3 separate regions of the Homo sapiens genome follow, and all the other regions are reported to be linked to region 3. The links are microRNA targets in miRTarBase. Many come from high-throughput screens and were not tested one by one. Region 3 holds a microRNA gene; each other region holds the end of a gene's coding sequence.
The links. The annotated mature microRNA hsa-miR-4441 reads ACAGGGAGGAGAUUGUA and lies in region 3 at 3,674-3,690, opposite strand. An mRNA with a match to its seed (bases 2 to 7 or 8) in the 3' UTR can be bound and repressed. Matches are read on the target gene's strand: a 7mer-m8 pairs with bases 2 to 8, a 7mer-A1 pairs with bases 2 to 7 and ends in A, and an 8mer does both.

Region 1: miRTarBase lists SPRYD3 as a target of hsa-miR-4441. Seed matches in the 3' UTR shown: 7mer-m8 at 6,135-6,141 and 7mer-m8 at 5,355-5,361.
Region 2: the mRNA of ENTPD7 is a reported target of hsa-miR-4441. Seed matches in the 3' UTR shown: 7mer-m8 at 4,549-4,555.

The regions. Positions count from the first base shown.
Region 1 is chr12:53,059,666-53,066,949 of GRCh38, forward strand. SPRYD3 (SPRY domain containing 3) reads right to left here. Exons shown (of 11, transcript NM_032840.3): 9 at 6,908-7,027; 10 at 6,649-6,821; 11 at 4,651-6,301. The coding sequence ends at 6,167. TNS2 (tensin 2) reads left to right here. Exons shown (of 29, transcript NM_170754.4): 18 at 1-593; 19 at 740-890; 20 at 1,010-1,599; 21 at 1,715-1,804; 22 at 2,150-2,275; 23 at 2,488-2,580; 24 at 2,711-2,788; 25 at 2,955-3,032; 26 at 3,424-3,592; 27 at 3,684-3,752; 28 at 3,898-3,927; 29 at 4,079-4,714. The coding sequence ends at 4,217. Among named protein-coding and RNA genes, the nearest start is that of MIR6757, 6.4 kb to the left of the region's middle. RefSeq lists an enhancer at 6,274-6,775.
Region 2 is chr10:99,703,509-99,710,792 of GRCh38, forward strand. It overlaps ENTPD7 (ectonucleoside triphosphate diphosphohydrolase 7), which reads left to right. Exons shown (of 13, transcript NM_020354.5): 13 at 944-7,284. The coding sequence ends at 1,175. It also overlaps a transcript of COX15 not described here. Among named protein-coding and RNA genes, the nearest start is that of COX15, 25 kb to the right of the region's middle.
Region 3 is chr2:239,082,155-239,089,438 of GRCh38, forward strand. MIR4441 (microRNA 4441) reads right to left here and starts at 3,772; the gene lies at 3,673-3,772. HDAC4 (histone deacetylase 4) reads right to left here. Exons shown (of 27, transcript NM_001378414.1): 19 at 5,405-5,460; 20 at 2,001-2,088; 21 at 1-67.

The sequences.
Region 1 (7,284 bases), not on the chromosome of region 3:
GGTGGTCATCCTGGAGGACCCTGGGCTGCCTGCCCTATACCCATGCCCAGCCTGCGAGGAGAAGCTGGCGCTGCCTACAGCAGCCTTGTATGGACTGCGGCTGGAGAGGGAGGCTGGAGAAGGGTGGGCAAGTGAGGCTGGCAAGCCTCTCCTGCACCCAGTGCGGCCTGGGCACCCGCTGCCTCTGCTCTTGCCTGCCTGTGGGCATCACCATGCCCCGATGCCTGACTACAGCTGCCTGAAGCCACCCAAGGCAGGCGAGGAAGGGCACGAGGGCTGCTCCTACACCATGTGCCCCGAAGGCAGGTATGGGCATCCAGGGTACCCTGCCCTGGTGACATACAGCTATGGAGGAGCAGTTCCCAGTTACTGCCCAGCATATGGCCGTGTGCCTCATAGCTGTGGCTCTCCAGGAGAGGGCAGAGGGTATCCCAGCCCTGGTGCCCACTCCCCACGGGCTGGCTCCATTTCCCCGGGCAGCCCGCCCTATCCACAATCTAGGAAGCTGAGCTACGAGATCCCTACGGAGGAGGGAGGGGACAGGTACCCATTGCCTGGGCACCTGGCCTCAGCAGGACCTTTGGCATCTGCAGGTGAGGGGCACCAGAGTGCGGAGTGCCCAGGGCAGAGGAGGTTCTGGAAGATGGTGGGGAAGTCAAGGGGGAACAGGGTGAGAAACAGCTAAGCCAGACAGAAGAGCCCCATCCTGCTCACAGCCCACCTCTCCCCTTCACTGCAGAGTCGCTGGAGCCGGTGTCCTGGAGGGAGGGCCCCAGTGGGCACAGCACACTGCCTCGGTCTCCCCGAGATGCCCCATGCAGTGCTTCGTCAGAGTTGTCTGGTCCCTCCACGCCCCTGCACACCAGCAGTCCAGTCCAGGGCAAGGAAAGGTATGCAGAGGGGCCGGGGATGCTCGAGTGCTTTCTTGTCCAAGCAGTTGATGAAGGCAGGTGGGGTGGGAGCAGCCACAATGGGGGCTCTGCTGACCATCTGCCCTTCCACCCTACAGCACCCGGCGACAGGACACCAGGTCCCCCACCTCAGCGCCCACTCAGAGACTGAGTCCTGGCGAGGCCTTGCCCCCTGTTTCCCAGGCAGGCACCGGAAAGGCCCCTGAGCTGCCGTCGGGAAGTGGGCCTGAGCCTCTGGCCCCTAGCCCAGTCTCTCCGACCTTCCCTCCCAGCTCGCCCAGTGACTGGCCTCAGGAAAGGAGTCCAGGGGGCCACTCAGATGGCGCCAGTCCTCGGAGCCCTGTGCCCACCACACTTCCTGGCCTCCGCCACGCCCCCTGGCAAGGCCCTCGAGGCCCCCCCGACAGCCCAGATGGGTCTCCCCTCACTCCTGTGCCTTCCCAGATGCCCTGGCTTGTGGCCAGCCCAGAGCCGCCTCAGAGCTCACCTACACCTGCTTTCCCCCTGGCTGCCTCCTATGACACCAATGGCCTTAGCCAGCCCCCACTTCCTGAGAAACGCCACCTGCCCGGGCCGGGGCAACAGCCAGGACCCTGGGGCCCAGAGCAGGCATCATCGCCAGCCAGAGGCATCAGTCACCATGTCACCTTCGCACCTCTGCTCTCAGATAATGTCCCCCAAACCCCAGGTATAAAGGCCTTGAGGGGGTTGGTGCCACCTTGAGAGAACCCTTTCTCCTGGGATGTAGCATGGATGGGGACCCGGGTACCCTGGGGTCTGAACCTACTCCCTCCCTGTCCTAGAGCCTCCTACACAAGAGAGCCAAAGCAATGTCAAGTTTGTCCAGGATACATCCAAGTTCTGGTACAAGCCACACCTGTCCCGTGACCAAGGTGAGAAGCCAGCCTGCCCCCACCCCACTGCATCCCACCTTCCAGGGTGTCTGTCTTGGCTTTAAGTCCCATCCTGTTGAAGCTCTTGGCTCCTCCTGTCTGAGCTGTGTTTACTCTTGGCTGAGTGTTTACCAGCAGGTGATTCTGGGCTTTGGGCCAAGGCGGTGAGATCCAACATGGTCAAAACCCCTGTGAACTCTAGAGCCCTGGCCTCAGACTCTTACCGCCACCACAGCTGTCAGGGCAGAGACCATGGAGCTTGGCAGCAGAGGAGGGGGGCTGCATGGGGCTCAGTCCACCCCTGTGAAAACTCCTCCCCACTGCCCGCTACCCCTCACCCTGCAGCCATTGCCCTGCTGAAGGACAAGGACCCTGGGGCCTTCCTGATCAGGGACAGTCATTCATTCCAAGGAGCTTATGGGCTGGCCCTCAAGGTGGCCACACCGCCACCCAGTGCCCAGCCCTGGAAAGGTACAGAACACCCAAACCTGAGTGGGGTGGGGATGAAGTTGGGGGTGGTGCCAGAGGCAAGGTAACAGGGCAGGTGGGGGTGCTGTGCTGGCCATGCCGCTGTAGAGGGGAGAGGTAGGAAAAGACCTCAGCTGCTCGGGAAAGAATCCCATTAGGGAAGAAGCTGGAACCTGGAATCCTAAAGCCGCAATCTTCCCCTCGCCTCCTCTCAGGGGACCCCGTGGAACAGCTGGTCCGCCATTTCCTCATCGAGACTGGGCCCAAAGGGGTGAAGATCAAGGGCTGCCCCAGTGAGCCCTACTTTGGTGAGAAGCAGGAGCCTGGGGAAGGCTACGTTGGGTCGGTTTAGGGAGATGCCAAGGGATCTCAGGAGGATGGAAGGGAAAGGCGGGGCACCCTGGGCATCTCGGGACTTTCCTACCTCCTCTCCCACAGGCAGCCTGTCCGCCTTGGTCTCCCAGCACTCCATCTCCCCCATCTCCCTGCCCTGCTGCCTGCGCATTCCCAGCAAAGGTGAGTGTCTGGTCATCTGTCCTCCCCACCTCTCCCTACCCCCTGCAGCCAAAGCAGGATCCAGAGGTCTTGGCTCCCCGCCTTCCCTTGGGGAAGCAGAGGGAGTGCTCCAGCCTGGGGAACACTCTGCCTTCTGAGCTTCCCTGTCGGTTCTCATTGCCCTCAGATCCTCTGGAAGAGACCCCAGAGGCTCCAGTGCCCACCAACATGAGCACAGCGGCAGACCTCCTGCGTCAGGGTGCTGGTAGAGACTTCCCCTCCACTCCCCTCCCTCTCCCTGGGCACCAAGGGGGCATTGTGGATACAGGGCATGGGGCACTGAAAGGCCTTGAGGTGGGTGAGCCCTGGCCAACCCATGAGGGCAGGGGAGCCCCATACTGTCGGGGATGAGGAATTGGGTCCTCAGCCTAGGTTCTCAAAGTCTCATGAACAAGACGATCATGGGGTGGTAGCAGGGAGGCTTCTCTGCCTCGCTTCTGACTGTAGATCCAGTAGAGTCATGGAATCTGCCTTTTTAACAAGTCACCTATGTGATTGTAAAGCATGTGACAGCAGTAGCTGGGGAATGTGCAAGAGCTGGTGGGGGTGGCTAGGGGATGGGCACTCCCTCCCTGACCCACTCCCTGCCCCTGTAGCCTGCAGCGTGCTCTACTTGACCTCAGTGGAGACAGAGTCACTGACGGGCCCCCAAGCTGTGGCCCGGGCCAGCTCTGCAGCTCTGAGCTGTAGCCCCCGCCCGACACCAGCTGTTGTCCACTTCAAGGTGTCAGCCCAGGGCATTACACTGACGGACAACCAAAGGAAGTATGTATACTCAGCCCTGTAGAACCCCATGCTTAAGGCCCCTGGGGGCTCATGTTTCTGAGTGTGACCTTCCTCACCCTCCTCCTTGCAGGCTCTTCTTTCGCCGCCATTATCCAGTGAACAGCATCACCTTCTCCAGCACTGACCCTCAAGACCGGAGGTGACTCTCCCTCCAAACCCTTTGCCCCAAATCCCCATGGTCCCACCAGGTCCCAGCTCCCAGCCCCAGCCCCAGCCCCGGCCCCGGCCCCCCTTCAGCAGCTGTCCCCTGGGGTGTGCATCTTCACCTTCTTCTCCTTCTGCAGATGGACCAACCCAGACGGGACCACCTCCAAGTAAGCCTCCCCACGAATTCAGCCTCTTCCTTCCAAGGGACCAGGGCGCTGCTGTCCTCTCAATGCTGGCATTTGATTTGTCTCACCAAGGCCAGCTACATTCCCTTGTGGAAGGAATGTTAAGCCCCTTCCCCACCCTTTATCCCCCTAGGATCTTTGGTTTCGTGGCCAAGAAGCCGGGAAGCCCCTGGGAGAATGTGTGTCACCTCTTTGCAGAGCTTGACCCAGATCAGCCTGCTGGCGCCATTGTCACCTTCATCACCAAAGTTCTACTGGGCCAGAGAAAATGAAGGAAGGCCACAAGCTCAGAGCCCACATCAACACTGCCCCCCTCCCAGCACCCCACAGCCCTCACATCCCCTGGCCTGGACCCAGGAGACCCAGGAGAAAGCACCCTCCCTTAGGAATGAGGAGTGGGCATCAGGCCTGGGACACTGCTCTCCTTCCCCGCCCCCAGCCTGCTAAGTTAAGTGGACAGGCCCACAAGATGACCTTGCATGTGAGCAGATGGCAGAGATGGGTGTGTGAGGGGTGAGGAGGCATCAGCAGTTGAGCCCCGAAGGAGATCAGGCAGCCCCACCTGCAGGAGAACGTCAGCCCTCCAGGGGATCAGCCCCTGCCAGTTCCACCCAGCTGCAGGTGCCAGCACGGCAGGGATGGGAGAGGGGTGGGGAGCGAGTCACTGCCTCCTCTGAGCAGAGATTCAGAGTAGGATCACATGAATAGGGGAAAAAAGAGAGTCTATTTTTGTCTAATAATAAAGAATTTCTATAAACTTTAGCCGAAATTGGAGTCAACACTTATTCACAGGAAGGTCAAAGCCTCATCTCCCAGGGGACGTATCTGTGCTCAGGCCTGTAGCCAGGCCCATGGAACATATGATTCCCATCCCTGGCCCAACATTGGTCCACATCTCCCCATGAGCAAGCTGCCTTCGGCTGCCCCCATCCAGCAGTCCTGTTCCTAGCCCAGTGGACTAGAAAGGCTCCTGGTTCCGGCCATACTGATAAATACGGAAACTCCATCTTTATCGGCTGTATAAACATCTCTGGTCTGTACATACATTTCATACATCGTAGGGTGGGAAGCGAGGGCCAAAGGGAGGCCCAGCAGCACAACAGCTCACCCGCTTTCCCTACAGCCCTACCCGCTCTGTGCAAACCAAGGCCAACAGCTCCTGCTGCCTCTTCCTCCCTGGAAAAGTCACTGTTACGGGGAGGGGGCCAGGGGTTGAAGGATTAGAAGGAGATAGAGGGCTTGGTGGGGAGGACACATGTAAGTGCTAGAATCAAACACTGAAGCGAAACAGGCAACTGGCACAAGCAGCAAGCTGAGGCATGGGACGGGGCAGGAAAAGGGGAGGGAGGGGCCACGCTGCCCCTCTGGGCTTGCTCAGCTAAGGCTCTGGGGTCTTGCCCTCACGCTGGCAGGGAGACAGGCCCCAGAGCCTCAGCCCCAATACCCGGGAGCTAGGGACATGGGTGGCACTGGTAAAGAAAGGATGGAAGGGGAGAAAGGAGTGAAGGCCCTAGTGCCCTGTCACCTCACAGCCCCTCTCTCTTAAACATGCAACAGGCACCCACCCATGTGGGTCCAGGTATGGGGAGCCAGAGACCTAGATCCTCTGTGGTGCCTGAGCAGGTTGGGGTGGGGAGCCAGCTCTCAAGGGAAAGATGGAGAGCCTAGAGGAGTCTTCCTGGGGCAGCAGCCAGTGAAAGGACAGAGATGACCAAAGAGAGGTCCCCTGGCCCTGCCAGGGGTATGACAGCAGCAACTGGTTCACACAACCAGGAAAGAAAACAAGAAAGAGGAATTCAAGGAGAAATACCATGGTGAGTAGGGGAGGGGGCTGTCTACTCTACCCTCTACAAAGCATCATGCCCGAATAGCAGCTGAGATAGGGTGCTCACGCCTCTCCACCCACACAGGGCCGGTGAGGGAAAGGGGGACCCAGAAGCCCACTGACCAAAGCGAGTGGGACCACCCACATACCAACACCATTCTTTGGGTCCATTCCTGTCCAACCAGGGACTCAGGCCCAGGGACTGACAACAGTGGCAGCACCAGGTCAGAAACGTGGGCACAGAGAAGCGTGACAGGGGCCTGAGCCAGTGGGGGCAGAGTGACTACACACCTCCAGGGGCCTGCTGGGTAAACGAAGCCTCTGGGAAGTCAGGAACTGGGTGCCTGGCCCAGCAGAGGGTGAGCAGGGAGAAGGAGCAGGTCTGGAGGGGAGGCCCTAGCCACTCAAGGGGTGCAGATCTACTTTGACTTTCTCCCCGCAGCTCAGCATTCCAATGGTGGGGAAGAAGCCTCCAGAAGGAACAACAGCATCCTTCTTCCCAATGATCTTGCCATTCCGAGTGAAGAAAACCTGGGGAGGAGGTGGGGAGAAGAATGGAGCAAGCAGGCTGTGGCCTCTTCCCTGAGGATGCTGGAGCTCCACAGGCCTGAACCCCAATCACCCCAGCTTCCAGCGGGGCTGGAGAGGGGCAGTTAAGGTGTTATGGGAAGTGACCACCAGAGGGCGTGCTGAGGCCGGAAAACAGCCTCCCAAGACCGTCTCCCGATCTCAGCAACCCCTGGAGCTGGGAACAGCCCTTGGGCAACGCCAGAGCTTCCCGTCTTTCCCACCCTGGTTGTGAGTTCTGTTCCCCACTAATACCCACCCTTTGCCCAGACCCAAAAACCCTGGTCCCACCTCAAACTCTCCGTACTCACCACCACCTTCCTGCCCTCATGCTCCGGCTCTATCTCTTCCCCATCCTCTTCCTCTTCCTCTTCCTCCTCTTCCTCTTCCCCTTCCTGGTGCAGGTACATGACATTCCGCACGTTCCGGACGGCCCGGGCAGTCGGAGACAGGATCACTGTGTCACAACTGTCATCACTGTCCCCTAGGAGACCAGGAAACCTGAGCTCCTGTGGTGCCTTTCCACCCTCGGCCCCAAGCAGCCTGGCTGGCCACCCCTACCCCACTCACCCTCACTGTCCAAAATGTAGTCCCGGGGGAACATGATTCCACAGCCCATGATGTCCCCTTTGTAACAGCGTGGCCCAAAGGGGTCCCCCACACCACTGCCATGGAAGATCTTCCCATCGTCTGTTGGAGGGAGGGGAAAGGACAAACACTTGAGGAAGGAGGGCTGACACCACACCCCCAGAGTGGCTCATGAAGCTGAACACTTCCCACCCCTCAGAGGAAGGGAAGGGTCAGGGCGGAAACAAAGATGGAGAGAGAGGCCGGGCGCGGTGGCTCACGCCTGGAATCCCAGGACTTTGGGAGGCCAAGGAGGGTGGATCACCTGAAGTCAGGAGTTTGAGACCAGCATGGCCAGCATGGCGAAACATCTCTACTAA
Region 2 (7,284 bases), not on the chromosome of region 3:
GAGATTCGCATTCTAGAAGAACACTGCAGGTCAAACCAGACAAAACTAGATCTGGATCTGGACTGCTGAAGAGTGGCTTCTGTTCTAGCCAGGTGGACCATTACACTTGGTTTTCATATCGCCTTATTTTTATCTGACTGTAATACAGTTGATCAGGTAACAGCTTTATTTAGATATATCCTAGATCCTAAGGAAACATAGTACCTTTATTTTTTATTATTTTTTTGAGACAGGGTCTTGCTCTGTTGCCCAGGCTGAGTGTGGTGGCAGTGCCGTGTTCATAGCTCACTGCAACCTTGAACTCCTGGGCTCAAGTGATTCTCCTGCCTCAGCCTTCTGAGTAGCTGGGAATACAGGTGCTCGCCACCATGCCCAGCTAATTTTTTGATTTTTCTTTTGCAGAGATGGGGTCTTGTTATGTTGACCAGGCTGGTTTTGAACTCCTGGCTTCAAGCAATTCTCCTGGCCTGGCCTCCCAAAGTGCTTTGATTACAAGCATGTGCCACTGCACTTGGCTGCATAGCAACTTTAAAAAAAGGATTTAGACACACACACTCTGATTTCTTTATTGGATTCAGGGGATACCCTATTCTCATTAGTACTGTATTTATAAGCCATATTTTAAGACTTATGTTACAGGTGATCAATCTAGCCTTTCTGTTCATTTTTTGGGATTCAATTTCAAAGGCCTTCCCATCTTGGCTTAGATTCTGGAGGGTGTAAGCCTGGAGGTCCCTTCTGGGGGCCGTGGGAAGGAAGACACAGAAGGGCTCCTGGGGCGGGGGATGTTCTTCAGCTTTGCCTGCTCTGTGGAGCTGGTGTCATAAAATGTTTATGTGGATGGAATAAATGTGATAACACTACTGGGCCTTTCAAATCAGTAAATGTCTCCCTTTGAAACTTAACAGTTTTTTCCACCTACAAATTCTTAATTCTTCCCTAGGGATCTTCGGCAGGAAGGTGTCCGACAAGCCCATGGTAGCTGGTTCCGTCTCTCCTTTGTATACAACCACTATCTCTTCTTTGCCTGTATCCTGGTGGTGCTACTGGCCATCTTCCTATACCTTCTGCGGCTACGCCGAATTCACCACCGACAAACACGAGCCTCAGCTCCATTGGACTTGCTGTGGCTTGAAGAGGTGGTGCCCATGATGGGAGTACAGGTGGGGCCGTGAGGCTGGACCAGGACTAGAGAAGCTTGAGCACCCCCGAGTTGCTGCTCATTGAATTCCTCCACTTTCTTATATAGCCTCAGATGCTGTGATGTCTGACCTTGTGGATATTTGCCCTTGGAATTTCTACTTTACTTTCTACCGTAATTCCTTCTCCGTACCCAGGTCTTCTCTGAGAGAAGCTATAATTTAATCTGTGAGGAACTAAATGACAGGAGATTGGTGCTAATACGGGGGACCAAGCTTTGTCCAAGTGAAGCAGGCTTCGACTCCTTCTGAGAGGTCTGGTGTGTTCCTAGAATCTCACCTTTTCTTCCCTTGCTAAAGCATGAAGTTTGGCATTTGGCACACTGGAAGCCTGGTTGAAATGAAATTTGTAGCATCTGATACAAAGCCAGAGACATTCTAGCAAGTGCAGCAGCCCCTTCTTTCTCTGTAACAGAGATATCATTTATGTGGAGATCCACAACCTTTAACAGGGATCCAAGATCTTTGCAGTTCAATCGACCACATAGGAATTTCCAGGCACCAAAATGATATAACTTCCTTGCTTCCTTGACAAAGAAGCCATCATGGGTGTGATCCAAGATCCCTGTCGTAGTGTTGATGATGTTAGTACATGATTTTAAAGGTTAGAACCCCTTCTAAATGAATGGTCTGTGGAAGATTTTAGTATCTTATCTGATGCCTGGTATGATGAGGATAGAAAATTTTTCCATTTTTATGTGCCTCACAGGCTGTTTGGGCATTAATTTTGCTTTTTGAGCCTTAAGTGTGTTAGTAGGATGGAGAAACTGTGATGGGGACTGGGAACCTGGATTTGTCTGATTTTAGGTCACTGTTCCCTGGGCCTGTTTTTGTGAGCCCTTACACAGGAAGATATAAAGAGAGTTCTTTCATTTCACTGCTAAAATCAGTATGTAGTATGGGGAATGTATTTGGGTTGTTTTTAAAGAAAAGGGGAACAGAATCAGGAGAGTGGGCAAAGGCAATAAAATCAAAGTTCTTATTAATTATTTCTGAGAAATAGAAGTTTCTCAATTTATGACTCTTGGAATGTCTGAAAGGGAGCAAATTTGGAATAGATCAATCTGTTAATAAGCCATCTGGCAACTTTCAGAACCTCTATTAAGAGACTGCTGAGTCACAAACAGCACTTCCATTAATGAAGCGAGAGGAAAAGCCATAATAATTACATCTTCACCCACTACCCTTCCAGAGCTTTGCTTCTCCTCCACATTTAGCCATTAAATTGCATGAGGATTTCTCTTCATCAGGGTCCGCATGGAATCTTTCTTATATTTTACCCTTTCCTACATGTAGCCTTGAATGTCCTTTCCACGAATATGCTCCCACGGCTGGGAGCATTTTCTTTTCTTTTCGTCACCTTTGATTTTTGGGATTAGATTAATAGGGGAAAAAGTCCCTGGCTTTAAAGAAAACAAAAGTAGAATTCTTCAAAAATAAATTTCATACTGGGAACAGAAAGGAACTAAATGCTTCATAAAACAGGGAAAAAGAAATTAAGATCATCCTAGAAATAAACTAAGATAAAAATAAGTATACTGACCCTTGGTTGGTAGATAAAAAGATGACCAGTCTTGTATTGTTTTAAAATTAGATAAACATGGATTAAGCATGCAAAGACTCTGTTCCTTTTTTTTTTTCTTGGAGACAGGGCCTCACGCTGTCACCCAGGCTGGAGTGCAGTTGTGCAACATCATGGCTCACCGCAGCCTCAACCTCCTGGGCTCAAACAGTCCTCCCAACTCAGACTCCAGAGTAGCTGGGACTACAGGTGTGCGCCACCACACTCAGCTAATTTTTTATTTTATTTTTTTAGAGATGGAGTCTGTGTTGTCCAGGCTGGTCTCAAACTCTTGGGCTCAAGCAATCCTCCCACCTCAGCCTCCCAAAGTGCTGGGATTACAAGCATGAGCTACTGCACCTGCCCTCTGTTTCCTTTGGAAATCTCTTACCTTTCATTAGGGTTTCTTTCATAGCAATTTCCTTTGGTTTTTAAGACTTCTACATTGCTTTTTCTTTTATTATCTGTGCTCCGTGAACCTTATGAATGCTGCTTAAAAATAATGTCAAAATATGTTTTAGCTGCCTACTCAGGTAACGTTTTCTTTTGCTCTCATCTTGGTTTCCATATACTATTTTTGGTTTTTTGTGAGATCTAATCAATGATCTAGTCAGAAGCTACTTCACTGGCTAACAGTGATCATGTTCATGTGCTAAAAATGAACTTGAAACACGGAAGTAGTGGTTGGTCCAGTTTGAAAGCTCTTATTAGTATTCTTCATCCTGGCTGTAATAATAGCCATTATTTGTTATGCCTTTGTTATGTAGCAGACACTCTTAAGGATTTTATGTGTATTATTCAAATTGCTATTACTGTTCTTTTTATAGTTGAGAATCTCAGGATACCTACATTTATCACTTTTTCAATATATATGTATTTCTTATTCTTATTTTGTCTTGGAGTGTTTAATGTGTTATTTCCTGTTCATTACTTTAATATTATGGTATCTAGGCTTGTCTTTATTACCATGAGCAAGGTCTCCAGGAGTTCCACAGTACTGAAGGAAAATTTTGTCATATCCCTCAGAAGAACTGAATATTTATTATTGGTATGGGCTCCTTTGTTTATTCTCTTCTCCCAATTAATAGATTTTAAATGAAATCTTATTAGCTAGAAACAAAAGCCACTTACTCCTTGCTGAGAGCCAATTACTTAAATATATTTCTTCCTTATAATAAAATAATTTGCTTCTAGGAGCAGAAATCTATCTTGCCATACCCTTTGGTTTTTAAAGATTTCTCTTCTATTTGCATTTCTGCACTTTGGTGGTTCTCCCATGAAGATAATTATGGTGTCATAAAATTCACATTCCACTGGTTCCTTTGAATCTTACCAACCACTCTTGTTAACAGAGACAATGAACCTGAACTGTTTTAGGACTCTTGTTATTACTGAGACAGGTCACAAACATCAAAATAGGAGTCCGTGGCTTGTAGTGATGCTTTTTAGTCTTGTGATAGCACAATCCATCACTTTCCCCAAAATTCTTGTCATAGAACATAATGAAAAATATGTAAAATACCCATTTATGTGGCATTTCATTCACTTAAGTTGCAGTTAACTCTAAGCCAAATTATACCATTTTTTCTCTCTGTACTTTAGCTCCTTGAATTTCCTTAATCTGGGAAACTTTTGTTCCCACACCAAGGAACAAATTCAGGGGGTACAAGTGCAGGTTTGTTACATGAGTATATTGAGTGATGCTGAGGTTTGGGGTACAGATCCCATCACCAGGTGGTGAGCATAGTACCTAACAGATAGTTCTTTAATCCATGCCCTCCTCTCTCCCTCCCTGCTCTAGTAGTCCACAGTGTCTATTCTGGTCTGGGAAATTTTCATCACTTTCCACCAATCTTCTATTTATTCTCCAAATGTCTTCCAAAGTATCCTGCCCCACCCCCTCCTCATCCTAAGAGATTCCTTTAACTTCAAGATCATATCCAGTGATTGCTGAAAAATGTCTGCCATGCACTTGCTAAGCTAGTGTTTTTAGGCATTAACATTTATTATCACATCCATATTTATATTTTTGAAATAATTTATACTTCTCACTGATATCATCTAAACAGATGCTTCTCACAGTTTTATGTTTTGTTTTTTGTCAGGGATGAAAGACAAGTGAGTGGTATCACTTAAGGGAAAGAACAGTAGGCTTAACGAATAGCAGACCTGGATTCTAGTTCTGGCTTTGTCATTTACTAGCTCTGGTACCCCAGGCCAGTCACTTACCATCTCTGGTTCGGTTCTCATCTATCAAACAAAGAGGCTAGACAAGATTAGAAACTAAAGGCAGAAGACAAGGTAGAAAAATCATATGATTTTGGGAAGAGCATTTTGTCCTTTGGTTTAGAAGACCAGGCTGCCCAAAAGAGCCTCCTATTTTATCCATAACCCCTGATGATAAGGTTGGTGGGAACAGAGTTTCTAATAGTAATCATAATAAATTTCAGAAGAGTTTTAAAGCTTCTGGTCAACCCCCTTGATTTATATGGGTGATAAAACTGAGGCCTAGAGCAGTTGTAATATGTGCAAAGTCATAGTGACTGGCCTCCTAGCCCAACTACTTTGTCAGCTACAATGAAATGCTCATTAACAGAATCTTTCTGCAAGTATAAACAGAATCTATTTTTTATAAAACAGCTGGCCACAACTAACCATGCCCCATCTTTACAACTGCTTCTGACATTCATTTATGACTGCTTTGCTCACATTTAGGAATAAACTTTGAAAAAAATACTTTGTCAGAAATAGTGCCAAGTTTTCACTACATCTATTCTTGTTCCTGTATTTCTTTTCGTACTTTTAAATTTTATACATCTTTTTAAAACAATTTTATACAATTTCCTTTACTACAACATCCAAGCAATTCATTAGATGACTACAGCCTAGATGAAGGTATAAATGCCTATTACATCTACCTCATTAAAGAACTTCGTTGTAATTCTTGGGCAGTTTCCAGACTCTGTTACAGAAACAGAGGGCTGTTTCTTTTTGTTGTCTTTAAACTTTTCAAATTAATTCAAAACTAGTATCTAATTGTCCTTTTTGCTGTGGTATGTGGTGTAATGTTGATTGGGAATAAGAATTATGGTAGAAATAGCAGATGTTTCAAATTCTCCCATATTAGTCTCTTAGGGACGCTAGCTCCAGATTCCAGCCCCTGGGGCAATAACTTGTGAGGATTTTCCTGGTGTTACAAAAAATATTGCTGTTAAAAAACTAAGACTCAAAACCAAAAGTTGTGATTAATAATAACAGGATTATTAGTCAATAATATTTTGATTAATACTATAGAATAGCAACAGTGAATATACCTCAAATTGAAAACTTTTAGGTTGTGTTCTTGGCTCATTCTCTCATAACCTGGATCTAAGTTGGAAAGCTGTGGCACCCTGTTTGGGTGTCCCATCTACCCTGTTTTCTGTTTCTGCAGATGGCTTGTTCAAGCTTCATTTTAAGCCTGCTCTGTCTACTTATCTTCCTTATATCCTAATAGACTTCTCTTGTGTTATTACACATTTCTCTTTTGCTCTAATATTTCATTATTTTCCAGTTTGTCAGTACCGTTATCAGAGGGACGAGGAAGGAATAACACACCAGTTGACCATTTTGTTTCTCTGAAAATCTGAGCAATACGGAGATCCTTTTATTAGTAAAACTGAATCATTACTCATACTACAAGGGCTTTCACTTTTAAAATGTAATCCATCATTGCTTGCCATTTTTATGAAAACCAAAGTTGAAAAGTCTTCTGAATCACAGGCTATGTATAGCCACACATGCATGACTTCAGGCTAGCATAAAGACATGTCTGCTCCTGAGCCTCTTCTTTTAAAGGGCAACCACTTGTATACCCTCTGGTGGCCACTCCTCCTTCTCCACTCCAAGGCAGCCCTGGTACTTTCCTAAGTGGCCCCTCCTACAGAGCACTTGCCGGCATTTGGCCTGCTGCTGGTGAAGACGCCCCTTACTAGCTTCATAAATGTTTTTCTGCAAGCAGGGATCCCAGACACATACTTTGGTTTCTAGTGTTTCAGTTACTATGTTGTATTTGAAATTCTCATTCCACAATTACCCTTTAGTTGAAGTCCTGAAGTACATGCCATGTACTCCCCCTTTATTTCTACCTTGATCAATGGCCTCTGCGGAGTGTAGTGAAAGACATCTTTTTATTATGATCTACACTTTAAAAAACCAAAGGCTGCCTGTATTACATTGCTTTGGGGAGTTGTTAAGACTCTGTTTTTTCTACTGCTTCACATTAAACAATAATTTTGTTGAATTTTGAATTCTTAAAATTCTCACTGACAAACATTTTAGGTCAGTGTTGAGGAAAATGTGTGATGCATGTTAGAGAGGTGATGCATTCTCCCTTATGCAGGGACATGGGTATATGTGTTACATATGCTGATATATAACCCACCATTCATCCCAGGACCACAAGGGTAGCTGTAGATAAACTGGTTATCCTAAAATCATGATTATCAGTGTTGATCTCTGCAACCAACATTGCTTTAGGGAGTT
Region 3 (7,284 bases):
GGGACATGTACAGGACGCTGGGGTCGCTGTAGAAAGCCTGCTGGGTCCCGTTTCCATGGTGCACGTCCTTAAAGAGCAGGGACAACTACTTCAGGGCTGAGGCAGGTATTGGAGGGTGGCCTCCCCTGAGGGCCGTCCCCAACCCCAGTTGTGCTTAGTGACAACGGCTCCTGCTCAGGAATGACATTACCCTCCAGCTGGGCCCGTACCCGGCAGGCGCGATTCTGGGGCTGTGTGGGTCAGGGCTACGTGGTGCAGGGTCGCAGGGGTTCTAAGGGCCAATGTTCGCGTCTGCAGCACTGTTTCCCTCGCCCTTAGCGCCATGGCACAATCCTGACTCCAGCAGCCGATGGGGCTGGAGTTCAGCCAGGCCTAGAGGCCACCATTTCCCAGACGAAGCCATCTGATCAATTTCCTACACCTGCCGTGTCTCTGACAAGTGAGCCACTTCCTCAGCCTCTGTCAGGAAGGAGGTCACTGGCTGTGGCCTGCCCGCTTGCAGGCACGTGGGAGGTGCCAATTCCATGCCAGGCAGGGCGTTCGGCAGGAGACAAGTCCCAGGTGTCCGTGAGTGACAGGCACACACAGTACGGGGTCCAGGCCCCTGTGCCCAAATGGCAAGCACCGTTTCTTAATCACAAAACCCACAGGTCAGATGCAGCAGAGAGCACAGGCAGCCTGGGGCTTTACTGACCGTGGCTGTTCTGCCCCGGGCCACAGGGCAGGTGGTCACCAGGATGGGCGGGCGAGGGGGTGGCCCCGCTGAGAACAGCTGTGTGCCTGAGAAGACAGCATGCAGCCCTGATGTTCCCAGCACGAGAACTTGCTGCTCCGTTATCTGTGCTCATCACAGAAAAGGCGGAAGGGCAGCTACAGGTGAGGAGCGATGGACAAGAACCTTCCACCCCACAGAGTAGGTAATCGCTGTGAAGACGCACATGGAGGCTTTCCCGACATGTGGCTTCACACTGAGATGACCCTGTCCGCATGGTGTGTACATGGGCAATATCACAGCTCAGCGCGCAGGGAGCACGCCACACAGGGTCTACGCAGCCTGTCTGCGTGTCCTAGCGCTTCACTCTTTTGGGGATGGGTCCCCAGTCTTTAGCCATCAGCGACCTCACACTGCTCTCTTCCCAGGCACTCCTACCTGCTCCCTTAGGAGGAGCTGAGGGAGGGCTCCCGGCTCGCAGGTCCTTGGGTGTGGGGGACCCGCTGCTCTGCCGCATCCCCTGACCTGCCTCTCCGAAACAGCATGGCTGTCCTGGCTGTGCCATATTGTTTCTTTACCCAAACTCAGAAGGACTTCTCCAATTCAAATCATAACCCTACCTGACAGGGCCTGCTTTTTTCCCTTAAAAATTATGAAATAAATCATAAATACCAAAGAGAACACTAAATATGTATATATCTGGCTTTAAAAAGAGTAATAAGATGAATATCTTGAATATTAATTTCCGGTATAAGAATGAGTATACCTATTCGTGGAATTCAGATTCGGACATCATATAGCATTATTTAAAAAGAGATGACTCTTTTGGGGGCAGTGGCACCCCCCATTCCAGCAGGACCAGGTGCCCACACAGCAGCAGGAAGGCACGGGCTTCACTGGGGTGACTGAGAAGCAGACTGCCGCCTTCGACCAGGGTGAGGGTCCTCCCAGGCTCCCAGGCCACACACGCAAAGTAGATGTGGACACAGCCTCCTCCCCAACACCTGTCTTCCAAGAAGATCTCGTCGAGGGTGGCCCTGGCCGCTGCCGTCACCCACAGGCACATTTTTAGACACGCCAGGACCCCATTCGCCAGGGTCGGCTGACGGAAGCTGTACAATGACTTGTAGCAGGTTTGGGGCTTTACTTCTCCGCATCTTTGAGACCGTTTCCAGAAACCTAAGCTTCCCACATCCAAGAGCCCAGCTCCTCTGTCCACACGCTGCTGTCCGCTCGGGGACGGCAAAGGAGCAACCTGAGCTGCGCTGGCCAAGGCGGCTCTGCTTACCCAGTCCACGATGAGGATCTTGCTCACGCTCAACCTCTGCTGCAGAAGCTTGGCTGCCACGGCCACGGAGTTGAAGTAGCAAAAGCCCCTGCGGGAGAGAACTGACGCTGGAGACGAAGCGCAGGTGGGCGGTGGCCAGTTTCTCCACGGCCCGCCAGAGAGCCACTCGGGGTCCACGCAGACCTAAGAGGTCTCTGTGAGTGCAGAGCTCCTGAATACGTCGCAGGGAACCCTCAGTGATGCCGGAGAATCGGTTAACAGACAGACACGTACACACCCCACATGCAGACACACTCACACGCGTGCGCGCGCACACACACACACACACACACACAGCTCCCAAACAAGCCACTGGGGAATCTTAGCCAATGCCATAGGGTCGGCTAACCGACACGGACATGCACACACCCCACACAGACACACACACCACAGACAGAGACACACACACACCCCCCACAGACACACACACCACAGACAGAGACACACGTACACCCCACACAGACACACACACCACAGAGACACACCCTCCCACACAGACACACACACCATGCAACACGCCCTACACACATACATGCCCCACAGATACGCCCATACACCACAGACACACACCCCACACACACTCCACACAGACACACACCCCACACACACCCCACACCCCACAGATAGAGACACACACACCATGCAAACGCCCTACACACATATATGCCCCACAGATACGCCCATACCCACCCCCCCCACGTAGACACACATGCACAGATACACATGAACACCCCATACAGAAACACTCACACACACACAAACCACAGACACATACAAGCACACACACACATATACACATAAGCATATACCTATCACACACATCCACAGTTCCATACTGAGACAGACAGACACACACACACACACACACACACACACACACTCTCCTGCTTGGAGGTCCCCCACGCTCCTCTGGTAGGGAACCCTATTTCACATGTTACCAACATTTCCCTCATCTTCACCTGGAACCCTTCCTCTCAGGAGCTGCCGCCACGCCCCAGGAGACATGGCAGCCGTTCATCTCAGTTGCTTCCTGCTGACCTTCCTATATTCCAATACATAAATTACCTTTAATTTTAGAGAGTCTTACTCAAGAGACCAAGAAAACAAGCTATGAAAGTGATTCAAATAACAACGAAAACCTTCTTGATCTCAAATTCCCTTTGTCCGAATGACCACAGAAACGGAGAAACACTAGTTGTTTTGTTTTCAGAATCCGGGCTGGCATGGGGAAGCCCACACGCCCCAGGACATCCTAGACGCTGAGCTCCTGCAGCGGCTCACGGGGAGCACAGCGAAGAGCTGCAACAAAACACAATTCGTTTGTCTCCTCTGAGGTTTATTATTTGGAATATCCAACAACTCAGGTTCAAATTAGAAAAGAAACTTCAGAGAAATGAAACAAACAGGAAGCCTGGTGCCCAAGTGACTGTTCTGGGATGTGGAGCAAACACGTGGTTTTCAGGTAAAGCTACAAAGATTCCAACAAGCATCCCTCCCTGGCGGTTACAATCTCCTCCCTGTACACGAAGGACACTCTGCTCTAACACGCGGATCTGACTATCTCTCACGTACAATCTCCTCCCTGTACATGAAGGAGACTCTGCTCTAACACGCGGATCTGACTATCTCTCACGTACAATCTCCTCCCTGTACACGAAGGAGACTCTGCTCTAACATGCGGATCTGACTATCTCTCACGTACAGTCTCCTCCCTGTACACGAAGGAGACTCTGCTCTAACACGCGGATCTGACTATCTCGCACGTACAGTCTCTTCCCTGTACACGAAGGAGACTCTGCTCTAACACGCGGATCTGACTATCTCTCACGTACAGTCTCCTCCCTGCACATGAAGGAGACTCTGCTCTAACACGCGGATCTGACTATCTCGCACGTAGTCTCTTCCCTGTACACGAAGGAGACTCTGCTCTAACACGCGGATCTGACTATCTCGCACGTACAGTCTCTTCCCTGTACACGAAGGAGACTCTGCTCTAACACGCGGATCTGACTATCTCTCACGTACAGTCTCCTCCCTGCACATGAAGGAGACTCTGCTCTAACACGCGGATCTGACTATCTCGCACGTAGTCTCTTCCCTGTACACGAAGGAGACTCTGCTCTAACACGCGGATCTGACTATCTCGCACGTACAGTCTCCTCCCTGTACATGAAGGAGAATCTGCTCTAACACGCGGATCTGACTATCTCTCACGTACAGTCTCCTCCCCGTACATGAAGGAGAATCTGCTCTAACACGCGGATCTGACTGTCTCTCACGTACAATCTCTTCCCTGCACACGAAGGAGACTCTGCTCTAACATGTGGATCTGACTATCTCTCACGTACAGTCTCCTCCCTGTACGTGAAGGAGATTCTGCTCTAACACGCGGATCTGACTATCTCTCACGTCCTGCCGGCCCCTCCGTGGACGCCTGACTTCCCAGGGGTGACAGGGAGGCCCTTTCCCGGGCCCCTGCGGTTCTGTCTTGTTCTGACTGCTTCCTGGCCACAGCCTGATAGTGAACTTGTATCTGCACTTGTTCTTGCGTTGCCATCTGACAAACTGCTGCTCCAACTCTCCAAGGCAGAGCCCTATGCCACCTCCTCCTCACCGAAGCTGGCAAGATCAGGCACGCCTTCTCCATCTCCAGAGCATGGGGAGACGCTCTTTCTAGCACCACCCCTCCTCACTAGAGCGGCTACCGTCCCAGGAGACAGCATGCTCTTTGACGGGATAGATCATTCATTCACCACCCAGGCTGCAAGGCACTCCACAGACAGCTGCGGGTCTGTCCTGCCACTGGCTCTGGACACACAGGGATGGATCCGGGAGGACCCACACCCCACACTCGCCACCCTGCCCAGATCCTCAGCTGTATGGACCGTCGGCAGTCTCTGAAAGACCCGAAACAGCATCAGGATAGCTGCCTGCATGGACGTGGCTCTGTGGCTTGCTGCGTCAGTACCAGGCATTCGGCAGGCAGCTAAAAGGCCATGCGCAAAATGACCTGAGTCCTCTAGACAAGCAAGTGCTGCAGTGACTCACTTGAGGGTGAGTGGTGTTTCCTCTCCCAAGTGTTGACAACTACTCAACAACCAGAGGCTTCTCTGGACTAACCTCCACAGACCCTTTCCCATCCTTTCCTCTGATCTGTCTCCGTCATAACCGAGCAGTGATGCTCGCAGACTTTGGCATCTGCACTCCACACCCAGGAGCTGGAGCCAAGCCGGCATGCGGCACATCCTGGGTGGCCAGCAAACAGCAGCCCAGCTCCCCGCAGTCACTCACACACCCACCCAGCCCTAAGGGAGGGAAGGAAGACCTGGGTTCCCCTGCTGTGCGGGGCTGCGGCGTGTACTCACATGGGCGTGCTCTCCTCCGCATGGTGTCCAGGGGGGCGGACCACAGCAAAGCCATTCTGCAGGTGACACCAGACAGCCAGGAGAGAGCAACAAAAGACACACTTTGTAGCCACGGGAAAATGGTTGCACACTCAACTTTTAGCAGAGTTGGGCTACACAGGAGGACAGTTTCTTGCTGCACCCTGGCCACAGTGATGGGGACAGGATGCAGGGCCAGCTGGGAGCCTTTCCGGGAAGCCTGGGCCCTTCTCCTAAAGAGGTCTGGGGGCTACTAATGGTTCCCCCGAAACGCAGTCACTAGGATAACAGGTGGGTGCCTGCCCACTCTCAGAACTGTCGGTGAGGCGTGGTGCCCTTGGCTCAGGGGTCGGGGTGATGTGGAAAGGATGTGCTCACTCCCCGTCGGCTCGGGACCAGGACCCGCTAGGTGGCCACTGGAGGAAGATGAAGCAGAAGGGGCCCCACTCAAGGACTTGGCCGCGGGGCAGAGACGTTGTGTCCCAGCTTGGCCTTCACGTGACTGCCTCTGTCCTTACTGCAGTTCAGCTCTCAGGATGGCGGGCAAGTGGGCAGCCCACGAAACAGCTCCTCTCACACTGGGCAGAAACGCTGTCCTCTGCCCCATCACTTCTGCGTCAAAAATCCATCTGCAAACCACTCTGTAGTTGCTGCCATAAAAATGGATTCCAGTCCTCTCCTGGTCTCACCAGCAACAGGACACTGTGTGGTCAAGGTCTGTAATGAAGCCTCAAAAAAAGTGCCGGCCAACCATGAGTGACAATGCCATGGACGGGGTGAGCCGGACGCCGCAGGGACCAGGCTCAGGAAGGGGCGAGGGCAGCCCATGAGGTGGCGGCAAACGCTCTCAAGAGGCCCTGGCCTCCCTGCGTTTCTGCACTCAGTGCTTCCGAGTGTAGGCTGCAGACCCCTCGGTCCCGACCCCTGCTGAGGGTCTGTAGTCCACGTAGTCCTGAGGCTCTATGTACTCTTTTCACTGCCCTGACACCTGCGCCGATGGTGCTGAAGCACCGGAGGGTAGACGGCGGGCAGGGAACAGCACCAGGGCGTGTGTGTGTGTGTGAGCAGCTTCTCTTAACAATGTGCTCGATGAAGCAGTATTCAGACATTTTAGTAGATCTCCGCCCTCAAACACGTCCTTTTAACATCCCGAGTAAAGAGACGGGAAGGAAGCGTGAGAAACTGTGAGCTTTCCAGTGAAAATTACAAGTTTGGAACACACGGCTCTGCCCCTGTGAGCCTGCTGGCTCTCTCACTACTTATAAGACTTCTGGTGAGATGGGGGTGATATTAATGGTTTCAAAAATTAATGACTTTTTTGATACTGTATGGGTCAGAATATGGAAGATCCATGTAACTCCGTGAAGCTAAGTTTCCAAATGACCAACGCACGGTGCTACCAATCACCCATGAACGAAGGATCGATTTGATCTCCAAGAAGGGCTAATGGTTCAGTTAAACAAAACGGAGGGGGAGGAGGCCACGATTTGATTTCAGATCCACACTGCAGCTAATTTTCAAGACACTACCACTTGCTGAATTTTTGGTATACTGTCAAAGAATACCCACAATTAGAATACCTCTGAAAAGTCTATTAAAATCCTGCTCCCATTTCCAATTACGTATCTGTGTGGGGCCAGGATTCCTTCATGTACTTCAACATGTCCCAAGAATGACGCCGGGCAGGTGTGAGAACCAGCTGCTGTCCACAGGCAAGACATTAGTGCTATTTTTATTTTTTTATTACTTTTTAATTTTTTAGTTTTTTTTGAGACGGAGTCTCACTCTGTCACCCAGGCTGGAGTGCAATGGCGTGACTCGGCTCGCCGCAACCTCCACCTCCCAGGTTCAAGCGATTCGCC